Homo sapiens: one gene and its partners. The protein of the gene in region 2 purifies or fractionates together with the protein of the main gene of each other region. This does not show direct contact. Each region holds a gene or a part of one and is shown on either strand. Other genes may lie near its edges.

What was found.
Region 1: the proteins of KBTBD7 (region 2) and ERC1 purify together in Homo sapiens (co-immunoprecipitation; 5 studies listed by BioGRID and IntAct, with this or other methods). This does not show direct contact.
Region 3: the proteins of KBTBD7 (region 2) and LLGL1 purify together in Homo sapiens (co-immunoprecipitation; 5 studies listed by BioGRID and IntAct, with this or other methods). This does not show direct contact.

Annotation. Positions count from the first base shown.
Region 1 is NC_000012.12:1,022,167-1,025,918, forward strand, and holds part of ERC1 (ELKS/Rab6-interacting/CAST family member 1), read left to right. Parts: intron 1-3,752. UniProt on the Homo sapiens protein: Regulatory subunit of the IKK complex. Probably recruits IkappaBalpha/NFKBIA to the complex. May be involved in the organization of the cytomatrix at the nerve terminals active zone (CAZ) which regulates neurotransmitter release.
Region 2 is NC_000013.11:41,192,885-41,196,636, reverse strand, and holds the start of KBTBD7 (kelch repeat and BTB domain-containing protein 7), read left to right. Parts: upstream 1-2,067; 5' UTR 2,068-2,379; coding exon 2,380-3,752. UniProt on the Homo sapiens protein: As part of the CUL3(KBTBD6/7) E3 ubiquitin ligase complex functions as a substrate adapter for the RAC1 guanine exchange factor (GEF) TIAM1, mediating its 'Lys-48' ubiquitination and proteasomal degradation.
Region 3 is NC_000017.11:18,242,635-18,245,527, forward strand, and holds the end of LLGL1 (lethal(2) giant larvae protein homolog 1), read left to right. Parts: intron 1-108; coding exon 109-187; 3' UTR 188-188; intron 189-1,273; coding exon of another isoform or gene 1,274-1,415; 3' UTR 1,416-2,241; downstream 2,242-2,893. Other genes in the region: FLII (protein flightless-1 homolog), read right to left, coding at 2,504-2,785. UniProt on the Homo sapiens protein: Cortical cytoskeleton protein found in a complex involved in maintaining cell polarity and epithelial integrity. Involved in the regulation of mitotic spindle orientation, proliferation, differentiation and tissue organization of neuroepithelial cells.

The DNA of each region.
Region 1 (3,752 bases), on a different chromosome or scaffold from region 2:
TTGGTCTCCCAAAGTGCTGGGATTACAGGCACAGGCTATTGTGCCTGGCCAAGAAGTACATTTTATATTGTGATCCAGTATGCACATGTGCATGCATATGCACACCTGAAACATTGCAGAAAACAATACTGTTATCTCTTGTTGCATTACAATTACTTCAGAACTTACTGGATTTGAAAAACAAACATCTCAGATTTCATGAAGAGTGTGTTGGGTGATTCTGGCTCAGGGTATGTAGTGATTTTATTTCATTTAAAACAAACAAGAAAACAAGCTTGGTTGCAGCTTATCAAGCTGATTTCACAACCTACTATTGGGTCATAATTCTAAGTTTGAAAAACACTGACTGGGGACTGTTACCGTTTGGCTGTGTCCCCAGCAATCTCATCTTGAATTGTAGTTCCCATAATCCCTACATGTTGTGGAGGGACCTGGTGGTAGCTGAATCGTGGGGTCGGTTACCCCATGCTGTTCTGATAGTGAGTGCTCACGAGATCGATTTTATTTTTTCTTTTTTGAGACAGAGTCTTGCTCTGTCACCCAGGCTTGAGTGCAGTGGCATAATCTTGGGTCACTGAAACCTTTGCCTCCTGGGTTCAAGTGAGCACGTCTGGGTAATATTTGTATTTTTAGTAGAGATAGGGTTTCACCATGTTGGCCAGGCTGGTCTTGAACTCCTGACCTCAAGTGATCCACTGACCTTGGCCTCCCAAAGTGTTGGGATTACAGGCGTTAGCCACCGCGCCCAGCCTAGATCTGATGGTTTTGTAAGGGGCTCTTCCCCCTTTGCTTGGCACTTCTTCCTGCCGCCATGTGAAGAAGGATGTGTTTGCTTCCCCTTCTGCCATGATTGTAAGCTTCTTGAGGCCTCCCCAGCCCTGCAGAACTGTGAGTCAATTAAACCTCTTTCTTTTATAAATTACCCAGTCTTATGGGTAGTTCTACATAGAGCTTGAGAATGGACTAATACAGGACTCTGAGGCTAGAGGCAGGCAGTCAGGTTAGAAAGTTGTTTTAATTCAGGTAGGATAGGATGGCATAAACCAAGGTAATAATTGTGGGAATGGAGGAAGAGGATCAATTTAAGAGGTACCTAGAAATCAAAGCAACAGGAATTGTATTGTTTTGATAATATGTGTGTATATGGAGTATGAAGATTTTGGGAGGACTCTCAGGCTCTGGCTTGAGCAGCTGATGTTATTCATGTGAATAGATGTTGTCCACTACCATGTTCTTTTTTTGATTTTTTTTTTTTCCCCTGCAGCAGCAGGTTTGGTTTTGGAATGGGGAGACCTTGATACGGAGTTCAGTTTGGGGGCATGGTGTATTTGAGGTGCATGTGAGGAGTATAAGTGAAGATGTCCAGAAGTGGGATACATAGTTTTGATTCTCAAAGGAGAAGTAAAAAAGTACTGGAGAAGTAGTGAATTTGGAGTCTTTGTTGTACATATGTTATTTTAAGCTGGTGGAGGCAGGGAGAAAGGATTTCTTAAGGATGATATTGTAGTGTGAGAATAACATAGGGATGAAGATCAGAAACATTTAAGGGAGGAACGAACAAAGAAGGAGGAGGGTTAGAAGAAAAGAGCATATGATATAAAGAAACCAAGAGAGGAGAGTGTCAAAAAATTGGGAGTGCTTAAGAAACAAGATGTATTATAGACAGAAGTTAAAAAGGCATTAGAGAGGAAAAGTGTTCATTAACTAAGGTTTCTCTGGAGAAGCCAGAGGGAATGGGGACTAAAGTACCCTGTGGAAGGATTAGCTGTAGCCCACTTCCATCAGAATAGAGGAAGTTAAGGATGGTTGTTGCTGTCAATGAACATGTGGAGAGAGAAAGTTGAGATAGTTCCTGTTTGATTTCTTTGTTTCTCTCTTATGTAGGAGATGAGATACGTAAATTTGATAGGGCTGCTGTAAGAAAGTACCATCAGCTGGGCACGGTGGCTCACGCCTGTAATCCCAGTACTTTGGGAGGCTGAGGCAGGCGAATCCGTTGGGCCCAGGAGTTCGAGACCAGACTGGGCAACATGGTGAAACCCCACCTCTACCAAAAATACAAAAATTAGCTGGGTGTGCTGATGCTCGCCTGTAGTCTCAGCTACTCGGGTGGCTGAGGTGGGAGAAGTGCTTGAGCCTGGGAGGTTGAGGCCACGGTGAGCTGTGATTGTACCACTGCACTCCAGCCTGGGTGACAGAGGAGACCTTGTCTCAACAAACAAAAACACAAAACATCTCCCGCCTCTCCACCCCGCTCCCCCCACAGGTTTGAAACCACCTGCCTGTTATTTCAAACCACCTGTGTGTTCACATTTTTGAGGACTTTTAACCTGTTTGACCAGAATAGATACTGTCTTTAGAATCTCATTTTTGACAATATGATTTACTTGGTACTGTTTTCAATGAAGAAACACTTATAAGAATCAATTTACATAACAATGGATTTTGGGAAAATATTGTTTAATATGCTGAAGCCTGTTGTTACTTGACCTAAGCCAATGCTTTGAAATGATGCTAGGAAATCAGAGAGATCTAGTTTAGATCTATATTGTCTTTGAAAGAAGTCTATAAAGTTGATAGCTATAGTTTAGTGGGTTCTGCATCCACAGCTCAAACCACCTGTGGACCAAAAATATTTGGGAAAGAATCTTAAAGTCACCTTGAAAAAAAAAGTGGAAAAAAAAAAAAAAAGAAAATACTTGGGAAAAAATAATACAACATGGAAAAATAATACAAATAAAAAACACAATAAGTATAACAACGATTTACATAGCATCTACATTTTATTAAGTATTATAAGTAATTTAGAGATGATTTAAAGTATGCTGGAGGATATCCATAGGTTTTATGCAATTACTGTGTCATTTTGAATCAGGGACTTGAGCATCCTGGGATTTTTGTTGTCTGGGGCAGTCTTGGATATCTGGATACGTTCTACTGGAGCCAGTCCCCAGCAGATACCAAGGGACAACTGCCTGTGGTTTTAAAATTTGTTTTAGTTATACTTGTAGAGTATGAACATGTTTTCTTTTTTGAAAAAAAAATTCAGGTGCTTTATGGTAGTTTGAGTGTAAAGCTTTCTAAGTTGAGCTAAAGCCTCCACAAACATTTTTCCCCTTTATAACACAAGTTTCCTTCCCTCTAATTATCGCTGTTTCAAAATTGGCATTTCCCGTGTAGGAATTCTTTACATACTCTGTTTACAGATCATTATACTTATGTTCACTGTATTTTTCACCTAGCTTTTGGTTTATCTTTTAATTTTATTTACAGCATTTTTTGGTATAATACTTTGTCATTTTGACATAATTAAGTGTGTTGGTTGTTTTTCTTTATGGTTTTTGCTTCTGGTTTTTTATTTAAGAAGCCTTTTCCTAACTCAAGTTCACAAGGATATTCTTCAAAATTTTCTTCTAGTACTTTTAATGGCTTAAAAAATTTATATCTTTAATGTATATGGAATTTATTTTGGTGTACTATGTGAAGACGAGTATACGTTATGTTTCTCAAAGAGCAACAAGTATTTAAACTTCATTTATTGAGTGATTTTTCATTTCCTCACTGTATTAGTCTGTTCTCATGTTGCTAATACAGACATACCCGAGACTAGGTAATTTAAAAAGGAAAGTTTTTTTTTTTTTTTTTTTTTGAGACGGAGTCTCGCTCTTGTCACCCAGGCTGGAGTGCAGTGGCGCGATCTCGGCTCACTGCAATGTCTGCCGCCTGGGTTCAAGCTTCTTATGCCTCAGCCT
Region 2 (3,752 bases):
GGCATGTGGCTCATGCCTGTAATTGCAGCAACTCAGAGGCTCAGGCAGGAAGAGTGCTTGACACCAAGATTTCCAGACCAGGCTGGCAACACAGTGAGACCCTGTCTATAATTTTTTTTTAATTAACTGGGTGTGGTGGTATGCATCTATAGCTCTAGTTACTTGGGAGGCTGAGGGCAAAGTATTGCTTGAGCACTGGAGTTTGAGGCAGCAGTGAGCTATTATGGTGCCACTGCACTCCAACCTGGGTGACAGGGCAAGACCCCATCTCAAAAAAAAAAAAAAAAAAGAAAAAAAAAAGGCTTTTTTCCCCAGCTGGTATTCACTGCAAGTCAGGAAACAATCATTGTTACTGATAATGACTGACTTGATTCTCTCTGGTGTATCTGAGGGATATCTAACATCTCTTTTTATTTACAGAGGAGTTATTAGAGCCCAGAGGCTGACTTAATTTAATGTGTCTACCCTAGAGTATTTCCAGTGGACTTCAGCTGATAAGTTGAAGTTATCTTCAGCTGATAAGAGAAAAACAATTTGAAAGTTATTCTCTTGTAATGTGTTATCCATACATGCATGTAACACTGATGATTTTCTTTATTAGGTTATGGTAACATAACAAACTAGCAGCAGGAGCAGTCATGGTTTTGTAATAAAAGTTATCTGAAAAAGTCTGTTACTGGTGGAGGGTGTCCAGGTTCTTGGCGTTTTGGACAAAAAATTGGACAAAACACATAAACAAAGCAAGGAAACAATGAAACAACAAAAGCAGAGATTTACTGAAAATGAAAGTACACTCCACAGTGGGGAGCGGGCCTGAGCATAGGGGCTCAAGGGCCCTGTTACAGAATTTCTGAAGGTTTAAATACCCTCTAGAGGATTCCACTGGTTACTTGGTGTACACCCTATGTAAATGAAGAGAATGAAGTAAAGTTACAAACTCATTTACTCAGCATACACCCTATGGAGAGGATCTTTCCTGTTATAGCTAAAGTGTGAATCAGCCTTATGTTCCCTGCCTCCAGACCCTATTTTCCTGCCTCAAATCTCTAATACTTGATTTTGATGATTTAACTGTTGATCCCAATGCAAATATAAAAGACTTTGTAAAGCATAGACTATACTATATATTAATTCAAGGAATGTCAGGGCATGTACTGATGTTGAATTCTGAGAATCATGTGCTTTTGTACAGAACAAAGTCTGTTTGTTGAAATATTTTGAGTTAAAATACTCCCTAAAACTCCTTAATAAAGGGAATTACATAATCTGTTAATTGATTTGTGGAACGGCAGTGAAAGAGGCTGTATTAGACGACTTGAAAACACTCATATTTGGAGCTTAACGAAAATACTCCTGCTCTCCAGAGATGAAATGTTAGTGAGAGCAGCAAATAATTTATTTTTATATGCTGGATTTGCGTATTTGAGACCATCTATTAATACTGTTCTTTAGGACCTCAACCTAGTCGTCTAAGACATCCTTATTAAACGAGACCAATAGATATCATTTAATATTGAAAATATTGTTAATGCCCTTCAAAATCTTTCGAAGGAATAAACATTAAAAACTAGAAATTCTTTGTAAAATTTTGCGGTTTAAAATAATACTCGGTTTCAAATTAGTGGGTGCCTCATTTATCATAAATTATAAAAGAGAATCTAACAGTTATTGGCTACATTCTAGGCACGGGGTAACGCTTTACTATTCTTCTAACCAAAAACATACATGTATCTAAGTATCCCATGTAAGGTATCATTGAACCACACAAAACCCTATGAAATACTGGCAGGGGGCGGTGGCTCACGCCTGTAATCCCAGCACATTGAGAGGCCGAGGCAGGAGGATAATTTGAGCCCTCAGGAGTTCAAGACCAGCCTGGGCAACAGTCTCTTCACCATCAAATCCAGGAGAATTAATTTCTACTGTTAGAGCAGTCAACTAAAGGACAGCTCGCGATATTACACAAACTACTACTCCCAACATGCAAAGCGGTTTCTTTCCCTCTGTCCCCGCCCGGCCGTCCGAGAGCCCCAGCAGGCCTCGGGGCGCGAAAGGCAACCTGGGAGCAGTAGTTCTCCCGGGCGCCTAGCGGGATCGCCAGCGCGGCAGTGGGGGCTTCCGCGGCTGCAAGCCAGCGGGTCCTGTGAGGGCGAGCGGAGGCGGAGAAAGGGCGCGGGAGTGAGAGAGGGTGAGTCAGCCACTGTCTATGCAATAAAGGGAGGCCTCACCGCGGGATAGGGCTGAATTCAGAAGTGCGGCCCGTGCCGCAGTCTGTTCCAGGACGCGGCTTGTCTTAGCGTCAGCGAGGGAAGGTTGAGGAGGAGCCAGAGCCTGGTCCTGCAGCCTTTCTCGCCGTCAGCGCCCGTCGCCATCTCCACCATGCAGTCCCGGGAAGACGTCCCGCGCTCTCGCCGCCTCGCCAGTCCCCGTGGTGGGAGGCGGCCCAAGAGGATTTCCAAGCCCTCGGTTTCGGCCTTTTTCACGGGTCCAGAGGAGTTAAAGGACACGGCCCATTCTGCAGCCCTGCTGGCACAGCTCAAGTCCTTCTACGACGCGCGGCTGCTGTGTGATGTGACCATCGAGGTGGTGACGCCTGGCAGCGGGCCTGGCACGGGTCGCCTCTTTTCCTGCAATCGCAACGTGCTAGCAGCTGCGTGTCCCTACTTCAAGAGCATGTTCACAGGTGGCATGTACGAGAGCCAGCAGGCCAGCGTGACCATGCACGATGTGGACGCCGAGTCCTTCGAGGTGTTGGTCGACTACTGCTACACGGGTCGTGTGTCTCTCAGTGAGGCCAATGTGCAGCGCCTGTACGCGGCCTCCGACATGCTACAGCTGGAATATGTGCGGGAAGCCTGTGCCTCCTTCTTAGCCCGACGTCTTGACCTGACCAACTGCACCGCCATCCTCAAGTTTGCAGACGCCTTCGACCATCACAAGCTTCGATCTCAGGCCCAGTCCTACATAGCTCACAACTTCAAGCAGCTCAGCCGAATGGGTTCAATTCGGGAGGAGACTCTAGCAGATCTAACCCTGGCCCAGCTGCTGGCTGTCCTACGCCTGGATAGTCTGGACATAGAGAGTGAGCGGACTGTATGCCATGTAGCTGTGCAGTGGCTGGAGGCTGCTGCCAAAGAGCGGGGTCCCAGTGCTGCAGAAGTCTTCAAGTGCGTGCGCTGGATGCACTTCACTGAAGAAGATCAGGACTACTTAGAAGGGCTGCTGACCAAGCCCATCGTGAAGAAGTACTGCCTGGACGTTATTGAAGGGGCCCTGCAGATGCGCTATGGTGACCTGTTGTACAAGTCTCTGGTGCCAGTGCCAAACAGCAGCAGCAGCAGTAGCAGCAGCAACTCTCTTGTATCTGCAGCAGAAAATCCACCCCAGAGACTGGGTATGTGTGCCAAGGAGATGGTGATCTTCTTTGGACATCCTAGAGATCCCTTTCTCTGCTATGACCCTTACTCGGGGGACATTTACACAATGCCATCCCCTTTGACCAGCTTTGCTCACACTAAGACTGTCACCTCCTCAGCTGTCTGTGTGTCCCCAGACCATGACATCTATCTAGCTGCTCAGCCCAGGAAAGACCTCTGGGTGTATAAACCAGCTCAGAATAGTTGGCAGCAACTTGCAGATCGCTTGCTGTGTCGTGAGGGCATGGATGTGGCATATCTCAATGGCTACATCTACATTTTGGGGGGACGAGACCCTATTACTGGAGTTAAGTTGAAGGAAGTGGAATGCTACAG
Region 3 (2,893 bases), on a different chromosome or scaffold from region 2:
CTGGTGGGCAGGTCCACAGGGGGGGCTGCCCTGTCCCCTAGGCCTCCGTCCCCAGGGCTGCCAGGGGCTCCCCCGCCCCCACCCCTGAGCACCATCCCCATCTCGCAGCTCCTCTGAGGAGTCAGAGAAGAACCTGAGGAACCTGGCAGAAGACGAGGCCCACGCCTGTGCCATCCTGATCAAATGAGGTGCTGCAGGGGTGGGGCCCTGGTCCTCACCACTGGTGACGTCCACCCCCTTCAGCCCGTCTGGGTACCATTTGGCCCTGGTCTTCTACCTGAGACCCTGGCAGGCCCATGTGATGGCACTCTCTGAAACCTGGCTGCCTTCCATGGAGTGCCTCAATTGGGGACTTCTGGTGCTCACACAGACACCAGTGTCATGGTTGGGTATTAGAAAAGCAGGGCCAGCCCCTCAGCCCTTGCATGTGACAGGTGGTGGTTAGGACAAGACCAGATTTGTTTTGTTTTGTTTTGTTTTGTTTTGTTTTTGAGACGGAGTCTTGCTCTGTCGCCCAGGCTGGAGTGCAGTGGCGTGATCTTGGCTCACTGCAACCTCTGCCTCCTGGGTTCATGCCATTCTCCTGCCTCAGCCTCCTGAGCAGCTGGGACTACAGGCGCCCGCCACCACACCCAGCTAATTTTTTGTGTTTTTAGTAGAGACGGGGTTTCACTGTGTTAGCCAGGATGGTCTCGATCTCCTGACCTCATGATCCACCCGCCTCGGCCTCCCTAAGTCCTGGGATTACAGGCGTGAGCCACCGCACCCGGCCAACAAGACCAGATTAAACCACTTAGAGGTGGCAGTAGTTTGGGGCTTGGGAGCTGGTTTGGCCAGCCTGTTTCATAGATGAGATCACTGAGGTGCACGAGGTCAGGTCTCATCGGTTGGGCCCAGCAAGTGGCTGACTTACCCCTGCCTGAGTCTGTGGATCCTCACCTAGATGTGGGGCCCATAGATCTGCCCAGCGCATTTGCTGCCTCATGTTCCCAGGCACCTGACTGTAGGCCATAGCCTCACCCTGCACAGGACATGGACACCTCCCAGCTCTTTGTCTGGTGCCTCTCCCTGGCCTCAGTGGGGCATATGTGGCCTGGCGCTTGGATACCCATCTGGAGACTCAGCAAGCCCATCTCAGGTGGTCACTGAAGGGCCATGCCTGCCCTGCAGAGGAGACAGTGGCAGCACCTGTGTGGTCTGGCCGCTGTGGCAATCCATCTGCCCTTTTGCCCTCCCTCACCTTCTGCTGATACCTCTTCTCTCCCTCTTCCAGGAAGGCCAGAACTATCCCGACCTCCACCTGCCCTGCTCGGAGCTGGAGTGCTGGATCCCTGGCACCTGCCTGGCCCCTTAACATAGAACCACGCCTGCTAACCTGTAGGCTCCACTGGGACCTGCTGTCCTGTCCCGCCTGACCCTGGGCCCTGGAGCAGCACCAGCCCCAGGGTGTGGGCCTGGGACCTGGGCCAGAACTGAGCCCTCCTGCAGGCATTTGGCTGCCCTGGGGGCCCACTGCCTAGGGAAGAGGACAGGTGGGGCCCAGCACCTGTGCCACCTCCCCCCCTCCACACACCATCCTTCCCCCTCACTTTGCAGAGTATTTTTCCTTTTTTTTTTTTTTCTTAAAGACGGAGTCTTGCTCTGTCGCCCAGGCTGGAGTGCAGTGGCCCCATCTCTGCTCACTGCAAGCCCCGCCTTCTGGGTTCCCGCCATTCTTCTGCCTCAGCCTCCCAAGTAGCTGGGACTACAGGCGCCCACCACCACGCCCAGCTAATTTTTTCTGTATTTTTAGTAGAGATGGGGTTTCACCATGTTAGCCAGGATGGTCTCGATCTCCTGACCTCGTGATCCACCCACCTCAGCCTCCCAAAGTGCTGGGATTACAGGCGTGAGCCACCATGCCCAGCCCTGCAAAGAGTATTTTTCTAGCGCCTGGGCTGGACAGTTGTTTCTAAAACTAAACTATTTTGGTACCTGCTTCTGGGCCAGTCCCCAGCCTGTCATGAGTGTGTGTGTGCGGGCATGGATGTGACTGGGAGCTCTGCTGGGCACCCACATCTGGGGCCTAGTCAGGTGTGTGTGTCCGGCGGGGGGGGGGGGCAGGGGGGGGGGTCAAGATGAGTTTCCCTGTAGATTGTACCTTGGGGTTTTTTTCTGTCGTTTTGTTAAAATTAGCGCCATTTTAATATTAAAAATACTGATTTTTAATATTGAAAATAAAAGCATTTAATATCTCTTAAAGGGCATCCACATCTGCTTTATCCCTAGCGGAAGAGTGAGGGGGCTTCACACGTGCACTCACACTGTGGAGAGAGTTGGATTTCCCAGACCCCTGAGGGCACCTGTCAGGGTCATCCCCATTGGTGCTGCTTGAGGCTACTGGGGACTGTGGCACTGGACGTGGCTGGAGCAGGTGGTGTCACCTGAGTACATTCTTTGCTAGCAGACAGTGGATGAGGCCCCTTCCTCTTCCTCACCAAGCCTGGGGCTGTGCCAGCCTGTCTTAGGCCAGGGCCTTGCAGAAGGCGCTCCAGGCGTGGAAGCAGCGGGTAAAGGCGTGCTGCTCATTGCCCTTGCGGACCAGGCGCAGCCGGCGCGGCCGCTCATGTTCCTTGGACCGCATGTGCTGGATATATACCTGGCAAGGGGACAGCGAGCCTTGGGTGATGACCCTGCCCTGCCCACAGGCCCACCTCGGCCCTCCCTCCACCCAGATTACCTGGCAGGCCTTCAGGCTCAGCTTGATCTCCACCTGGCTAGTCTGGGTCCCCACCCACATGTAGACCTGTGGGGGCAGCAGGGGAGATACGGTTGCATGGGTGCCTGGGAACAGCCCCTTGCTCCTGGCCCGAGAATTCCCATTTGTAAGTAAGTCTATGGGCGCCTCCTTGGA